3 separate regions of the Homo sapiens genome follow, and all the other regions are linked to region 3. The links come from fine-mapping of genetic effects on gene expression. A gene starts in region 3. Each other region holds a variant in brackets. All regions are shown on one strand. Distances are between the middles of the regions.

Region 1 (2,769 bases), 58 kb after region 3:
AGAAATGATCCCTCCGGGACTTCCTGAGGGAGACAGATAAGGGAATAACTTGCAATGTAATGGCAAAAAGGGATAAGAGAGATTCGTGGCCCTTTGGGAATGATTCTTACCCAGCATGTCTCTTTCAGGTGCATAGCAGCCTGGCTGGAAGCATTCTGAGTGCTCTGTCTGCCCTGGTGGGTTTCATTCTCCTGTCTGTCAACCCGGCTGCATTAAATCCTGCCTCATTGCAGTGTAAGTTGGACGAAAAGGATATACCAACCAGACTTCTTCTTTCTTATGATTATCATTCACCTTACACCATGGACTGCCATAGAGCCAAAGCCAGTCTGGCTGTAAGTATTTTTTAGATGGGATGTTCTAATTTTATGAGGTTTCTGAAAGCCTTGATTTCTTATTATTCCATCCTTTGAAAATCTCTCTGTTAATTCTGGTTTGGGCATCTGGAGGAAGGCCAAGGTTATGTAAATCAAAGGGGGGCTGCATGGATGAGATTAAGGGGATTACATACTAACAGAGTGGAATTGAAATGTCAGATAAGGTTGATGATGAAAAACTAAAACTTACGGTTTGTAGAGTTTCTTAATTACTCAACTAATCTAATTTTGGAGGCATAAATTATGAGTTTGTCAAACTGAGAATGTTGGTACATAGAGTGGTGAATTCAGATTGGCAAACAGAGCAGAAAGACCCGGGTGATCAGAAAATGCTGACAAGGAAATGTGGTATGTGTGTGTGGTAGGGGGTCAGTTTGGTCTAAAAAGACATCAGACTAAAGATGAAGAAACAGAGAATAGGAAATATGGGGTTAGATGGTAAGGGTTTCTCCTAATGATTACAATAATGAATAATACTAATCAGGTGAAACGGTAACATTATTATTGCTTTTTGTTATAGCTGAAAGAAGTGTGATATCTTAAATCAGGAGATAAGAAATATAGGGAGATGGAGAGTGTAACTGAGAATTATCGCAGGAGAATTCTCTCTCTTTGGAAGAAGAAAAACAATGAAGTTTGGCTAACAGAAATAATGTGTCTGAAGTTGAAAAATTAAGGGGTATGTGCATGGCCAGCAACGCATTGAGAGGAAAACAGGCAACATAAAAGTAAAGAAGTTGCAGAATATTTATTGTCCTGCAATCATAAAAATGAGGTCAGCCAAGAACTCACCTGGACGATGGACAGATAGAAAGGTCTGGTCAAATTCATGCTTGTACAGCACCCATTATAAACTGAGCCTTGCTTCCAAGGTAATGGTATAATGAGGAAAAAGTGCATGCAAATGAGGCTGACAGTAATTGGTACAAATTCCACCTTGGGAAAAATTCTGGAGAGAAATTTGGGAGAAATTTGGTAGTGATAAAGTATAAATTCATGATGGGACGATTTTATATTGGAAATAAGAGAGATTCTGTTGAGCTTGCTTGCTGGAACAATTTCTAGGTAATGGACACAACATGTATCTTCTATTTAACTGTGTGTAAATACCACAAAACAAAAGTTCATGTGATCAAATTA[C/T]CTCCCTTTATTATCAGATGACCAGTTCTGCACAAAGAATGTCTCAGGACAGAAATGGTAGAACTCATCCTTGTGAGTTGGTGTTGGTGATTAGCAACAGTTTACTACCTTCACTGTTTTTTTCCAAGTCTTAAAACACCAAAAACAGCAAAAATAAAAAATAAACAACAAAAATAAAAAACATCCAAACAGGTTCAGATACATAGACAGGGATGTCAATACTGAATTTTACAAAGGGCTTACACAGCCAAAACCTCCTTGATCCTCACAAATCTCTGAGAAATAAATGTTAGTATGCATGTTTGATACATGAGGAAACAGGAGCTAGAGAAAGAAAGAGACTTGTCCAGGCTTACACAGCTACTCAGCAGTAAAGATGAGACTATAATGGAGCTGCTGATTCTCAGTCCTGGGAGCTATTACGCCACTCTGCTCTCTTACTGAGTGAACAATGTCATCAGAACTACGTACGTCTCAAAGAAGTGAGAAACAAGTGTATGAAATGGATTAGTTGATTTAGTTACTACTCATCTTCCCTTCTCTTCTCAAGAAACTGAATGAGTGAAGGAGTTGAATTAAGACAATTGTGAGGAGGAGCAGTTTTGTTTTCCTGATTGTTTCCTTACTTCATTCTCTAATGGTTGAGGTGGTCTTCATCTCTATGGTCACCTCTAAACTAGGCATGAAAGCTTCGGCTGACCCAAGCATCACTGATATTTTATTTCTTGACTTTCAGGGAACTCTGTCTCTGATGCTGGTTTCTACTGTGTTGGAGTTCTGCCTAGCTGTGCTCACTGCTGTGCTGCAGTGGAAACAGACTGTCTGACTTCCCTGGGTGAGTGTGCTGGCCAGCCTCGCTTAATCTTGCCTAGTGTATCTTATCTCTGCACTGTGTTGAGTATGTCACCAAGAGTGGTAGAAGGAACAATCAGTCAGTCATGAGATACACATGGGAGGTCATTTAAATGGTGATGGAAGACCGAGAAGAAAAGCAGATGGTAATTGAGTAGCTGACAAGCTGAGAGTTCACTGGATATGAAAATAGTTAAAATGAGAAATCAACTGGTTCAATCTTCCCATTTTGTCATTGAAGGGAATGAGACTCTGGGAAGTTAAATGACTGGGCTGGCATTATGATATGAGTCTGTACCTGTGCTGAGGACGCTAGAACCTGGCTTGCCTCCCTTCTAAGCAGAAACAATTTCTGCCACAACCACTAGTCTCTTTAATAGTATTGACTTGGTAAAGGGCC
Region 2 (2,769 bases), 100 kb before region 3:
GGGGGTGGTTCTGAGTCTCAGGCAGGCCCTGGAACATGGGCAGGCATATGATTGGCCACACTGAGTGCAGTATGGGGTGGCTGTGGGCAGAGGTCTAGGTGCAGGCCCAAGGATGGTGTAATGTGTGGGAGGCAGCGGGAAGTACAAGAAAAAGGTCTGAACTGGAGGTCAGAATATTGAAGTCACAGTACTAGACTTGCCTTGGTTTATTCCCTTGGGTAATCAGTTCCTTGATTTTATTTCCCACTCTGGTTCTCATTTATACATTTATGAAGTGAAGGGAATAGATAAACTAACCTCAGAAGTGACTTCTTTTGTACTCCAACTCACACAGAAAAGAGAATTGAGCTAAGAGTACTCTGAGAGCTATAGTTACAGGTAGGTAGGCTCCAGGGCACACCTCACAGCCATACAGTAGAATGTTACTTAATCCCACATGGGCACTTCTTCTTTTAGGAACTCACCAGTTGATACTCTGGGACCCCAATTTCCCAACATAATGACTGAAGTGTACACTCCTGGGCCTCCTAGTAGCCAGTAGTATTCTTGATGCCTAGAGTCTATATTTCTTAGAATAAGCTAGATTTGTCTTGAGATGGCACTCTTCTTCAATCTCAAAAAGGGCTGGTGCAATGTGTGACAAGAGTAGAACTCGCTAAAGCCTCGATGTCTCTGGTAAGTCTGAGCCCACCCCGAGACCACATCCTGCATCCTTGAGCTTCCTGCATGTTCACTGTGGGATTGTTCTCTGGAGTAACAGGCCCATATATTTCCTCCTAAAAGTTTGAAAGCACTACCCTTGTGCCAGGCTACTCAGTATGGTTGCCAATAGCCACATAGACTATCTATATTTAAAGTAAAATTAAGAGAAATTTTTATTCAGTTGCACTATATTTCACATCATCGATAGCCACATGTGACTGCCATATTGTACAGTACAGCTGTAGTGCATTTCCATCATCATAGAAAGTTACATTTCATTTCTATCATCATAGAAAGTTACATTTCATTTCCATCCTCAAAGAAAGTTAAATTAAACAGCACAGATCTAGTTAGTAGTTCCGAGTCTAACTGAGGGTTCCAAATAATAATCTCTAAATACCGATGAGAAAAAGAATTGGCATTTTTCTGGATGCCGTTTCTCACTTCCTTGCTGGCTTTGGGAGATTTTTGTAGCCAGAGCTTCCAAATTGAGTCTCGGTGCAATTGCATGGTATGACATTCTCTCACATAATCTCCAACATCAACCCCTTGAGAGA[T/G]AATGGATTGAGCGAAGACTTAATGAAACTTTAAAGACAAGAGAAGATTCTCCCTATAATCCAGGCTTTGTCTCCCTGCCACTTCCAACTCTAGTTTTTGCTGGAATAAGGGATAAAGACGGGTAAAGCTTTGTTTTTTGTTGTTGTTGTTTTGTTTTTTTGTTAGCCAATACAAATGACTAAGGACAACTTTTTAGGGTGCAAGAATTTATACTCAAACAAAATAAAAGTATTATACTTCTGGTGAGATAGATGAAAGGATACAGTCAGCCAGCACTACCCAAAACTATTGAAGTCCTCAAGGAAAAGGAAAATCTGAGAAAGTCTAAAGGAACCTGAGGAGACATCAGGCCTAAATGTAATGTAGTATACTGTAGTAGCCTCTGTGTCTACTTTGGATACCTCACATGAACAACACTTTGACTCATTTTTTTTTCAAGGGTTGTAACACCTGGGCTTAAAGAATGGACCCCAACCAATAGACCGCTTTATAACACTGTCAGCTTCCTTGCCACTGAAAACCTGAATTTGAAGGCCAGTTATCACCGAAAGAACCTCATAAACAGGCACAATTTCTCTGTGATACATTCTTCGGCATGGGCAGAGGGAATATTATAATCCCCTGAATGCAGACTTTGATGTAGGGTACAATAATTGGAGAAATGTTCTCTGAACAAGGATACAGAGGATCCAGGCCCAGCTCCTAATTCTAACAACAACCAACTGCTCTGGAACTGAGTTTTCAACTTTTCAAAGTAGAAAGACTAGCCTTAAAGAGTTCTGTCTAAGTTTTATTTTGATCCATTGGGTTGTGGGTTATAGCTCTCTTACTCACCAAAAGCTTGGTTAACCTTTTCTCTGTGGCGATTGATAGAGAGCCAGAGATGATAAACTAAGATAAAAGAGAAAATGGTCAGGTCAGATTCCATGTACAGAGTACCTTCGACGTCACTATCACAATGTTTATAGACAACTCTCATGGGAAAATCCCTGAGAAACCAGTGATCAATGAGGTAAGTTCCATTTAAATACATAGATTTGTCCCTTTGTCCATATAACATTCAGATAACATCAGAAAAAAAAAAGATAGCAGAAATATATCCTAATAAACAAAAAATATCCCACTAAACAAAAAAAGACCTTAAAAGCCAGGAAATAATTTTTGTTTTTTTAATAAAATGAGACAGTTTTGGTGTAAGATGTTCTCTAGGGAAGGACATAAAAGCAATGGTTAAAAAAAAAAGTAGTAATTTTACAGAGGAGAAATCTGGAAAATACTACCCCAACCACATAATCAAGGTTAATTGTGTCAGTGACATTATGTTGGTAGCATGACCCTTGATACGACTTGATGAAAATGGTGCTTTACCTCATCATCACCACCCAAAAATTCATCACCATACTCTAAACATCAAAAAAAAAAATCAGACAAACCCAAATTTAGGAACATTCTATAAAAATCTCAGCCAGCGCTACCCAAAACTATCAAAGTTCTCAAGGAAAAGGAAAA
Region 3 (2,769 bases):
TTCAATCTCATCTATACCAGCTATACGAATATCTCTGAGTTTCAGTTTCTTCTTCTGAAAAATAGAAATAATAATATTACCTTCCTTCATTCCCTTTCCATTTGTGTGTCTTTTGCTCATTCATCAGGTCTCCAATTAGATGTCCCCTTATCTAGGAAGTCTCCTCTGCCTACCCAATGTTGGGTTCATTGATCCTCCTATGAGCTCTCTTAGGATATCCTACTTTACCTTGCAGATCACTGATTACAATGGGTTGTAATGATGTATTTACTCATCTGTATTGCCACTTTACCTTGCAGATAACTGATAGTAATGGATTGTAGTGATTTATTTACTGGTCTGTTTTTCCAAGTAGTCTATAAACTCTTTGAGTGAAAATTATTTTTTACCATTTTTTCAGAAGCACACGGCACACTGCTTGGCTTATAGTAGTTTTTCTAAAGAAAATGCTGAATGAATGAAAACTGCACACCACTTTGCTTTCCTCCTCCATGTAAAGTAGGCATTATTTTATTTTACAAATGAATCTTAGGTTCAGGAGATTAACAGGGCCATGCAAGAAATGTTTGCCATTGGTTTGATCTTAGTCAAAGACCAGCTCGTTCTATGATACCAGCTGCTTCCTTCACTTAGAAAGGTGTTGTTTTATTGCCATACAACCAACTTGTTGCCATTTTATGGCCACTCCTGATGAATCTCTAAAGGTGGAATTTCATGTAAATAAAACATTTAAGTTGTGTATATTAAGGTTGGTGCAAAAGTTAATTGTGATTTTGGCCATAAAATAATGGCAAAAACTGCAATTACTTTTGCACCAACCTAATAAAATAGTAATAGTAGTGCTCCAGGAAGACAAGAGTACTGTGGAAATGTGTGACCCTGTGAAAGGGGGTATTTACAAAATACCATTTACTTGTTTATATAACGACTTTTGAAGAGAGTCTGGCATACAGTAAATCCTCTACCACTGATATCCACAGTAATTAGCAGTATTATTTTCATAGGAAAGACTGTATCAGGCAGCCCCTGCTTTTTCAGCAAATTTCAAAATAGACATCCACACCCATATTGGGAACACAAAATCAGTTAATGCTTCCGATATAAAAGAGGAACTAGCTGTGCGTCTCAGAAATTCTCAGCACAGCCTTTAAGGTTCCAAACATCTGCTAGAAGAGGAATGCAGATTTAAACTGAGTGAGGTGTGGAGTGGGGGAAGTTGATTGGGTCTAGACCAAAGAACTTTGAGGAACTTGCCCAGAGCCCTGCATGCATCAGACCTACAGCAGACATTGCAGGCCTGAAGAAAGGTAGGTCCAGGGACTTGCCTTCCTAGGCTTTCGGGCTGATGGCTTGTTTCACTTCCTGGGTTAAGAATTTCTGGGAGGGGAATGAGAAGAATAATGAGGCCACTTCCCATGACCCAAGCTGGTATTCAGGGTTGGGGTGGGTTGAGTGCACCTTTAAATGTGCATTCGGTGGGGGGATGAGGAACAGTTTTTGCTACAGTCGATAGGAGTTAGAAAAGCCTCCTAAAGGCTGACATTGGAGGCTGGATAAGGTTGTTTAGTTACTTTTGTCCCCTGAGTCTTCAGGATATCAAAACACTGAAAGCAACATTTTAAACCTTTGACTAGTTACCTCATCTACTGTTAATGCCCTTCTTCTGTGGTCTTTATTCTCTGTGTCTGACTGGTTATTTTTATAACTCAGGATTTAAGAACAGATGTATCACATGCAGAATTTGGTGTACATGGAGTAGGGCACAGGCAGGGTCCCCAGCCTTGTACATTTAGATGGGCTGTGGCCTGACCTAGTTCTCCAGTGGTCTTTGGCACTATTCATGGGGCACCCAGGCAGTAAACTGAGGCTGCTCATGATAAAATCTGCTAATGAAAAACACCTTGTAGACTTTTAGCATTCTTAGGATAAGAAAGAAGCTTGTAAGTGGTCGTGGCCATTGTAATCTTTCCCCAGATGAAGTAAAAGAAGCCAATAAAAGGGAAATAATGTACCCAGAATCACACAAGTTAACAAAAGGGCTGGGAGAAAAACAAAAACAAAAACAAAAACAGAATTCTTGGTTCCTAGCCCGGGCCTTTCCCCCTTTTCCCTTCCCATGCCACCACTTCTGCATCCCCATCATCCTTCTAAAACCATCCAGATTCAGGCCTCATTTTGGGTTTCTAGTCTATTTGACAACTTTGCCAAGAAAAACGGATGGCTGTTTGTACCACTCTCCTCATGCTCTCTCCTTGCAATTGTGACCCATGAGGAGGATGGTGACATAAAAATGAGGAAATAAGAGACTGGTGGTGCTGCTGATCCACAAGGTGACTGGGGCCAATAGAAGAGGGAAGGGTGGTCTGGGTTTCCCCACCTCTTTATCAGGGGTGTGGGGGAAAGACATTGTATTTCTTAAGAGCCTGATGCATATAGGTGATGTGGCAAAACCAAGGTTTAAATTCTTCTCCAACCTGGAAGAAATGTCCCTCATATGCATCCAATATTCTCAGCAGTTAAAAAAAAAATTGAATATAGAGAAGTCAAGCCCTGGATGGTAAACACGTTTTTGTTCTTGGGGACTTCATGTGCCGTAGATAATTAACACAAGGATTTCTGTGGTGGAAAAAGAGGAGGCAGTTATATGAATTTATGGCCAGAGTTTCTTAGAATGACAAAGCACCAGCCTTGAATGACCAGAACCTGACCTATGTTACCAAAGAATTATGGGAAAGCATAGGAGTCAGTTACAAGCTTTATTTTGATATA

The links. PIP is the estimated chance that this variant, and not a neighbour inherited with it, causes the effect. A credible set is the group of variants that fine-mapping cannot tell apart.
Region 1: its variant is the best candidate, but not a certain one, in a credible set for the expression of MS4A4A in whole blood (TOPMed, PIP 0.50).
Region 2: its variant is the best candidate, but not a certain one, in a credible set for the expression of MS4A4A in whole blood (INTERVAL, PIP 0.73).

The regions. Positions count from the first base shown.
Region 1 is chr11:60,337,613-60,340,381 of GRCh38, forward strand. It overlaps MS4A6E (membrane spanning 4-domains A6E), which reads left to right. Exons shown (of 5, transcript NM_139249.4): 3 at 129-335; 4 at 2,254-2,352. The coding sequence ends at 2,343. Among named protein-coding and RNA genes, the nearest start is that of MS4A6E, 12 kb to the left of the region's middle. The variant C/T (reference allele first, on the strand shown) is at 1,518.
Region 2 is chr11:60,176,166-60,178,934 of GRCh38, forward strand. It overlaps MS4A6A (membrane spanning 4-domains A6A), which reads right to left. Exons shown (of 6, transcript NM_022349.4): 4 at 2,095-2,151. Among named protein-coding and RNA genes, the nearest start is that of MS4A6A, 5.5 kb to the right of the region's middle. The variant T/G (reference allele first, on the strand shown) is at 1,260.
Region 3 is chr11:60,279,410-60,282,178 of GRCh38, forward strand. MS4A4A (membrane spanning 4-domains A4A) reads left to right here and starts at 1,257. Exons shown (of 7, transcript NM_148975.3): 1 at 1,257-1,307. The coding sequence starts at 1,267. RefSeq lists a silencer at 1,142-1,191.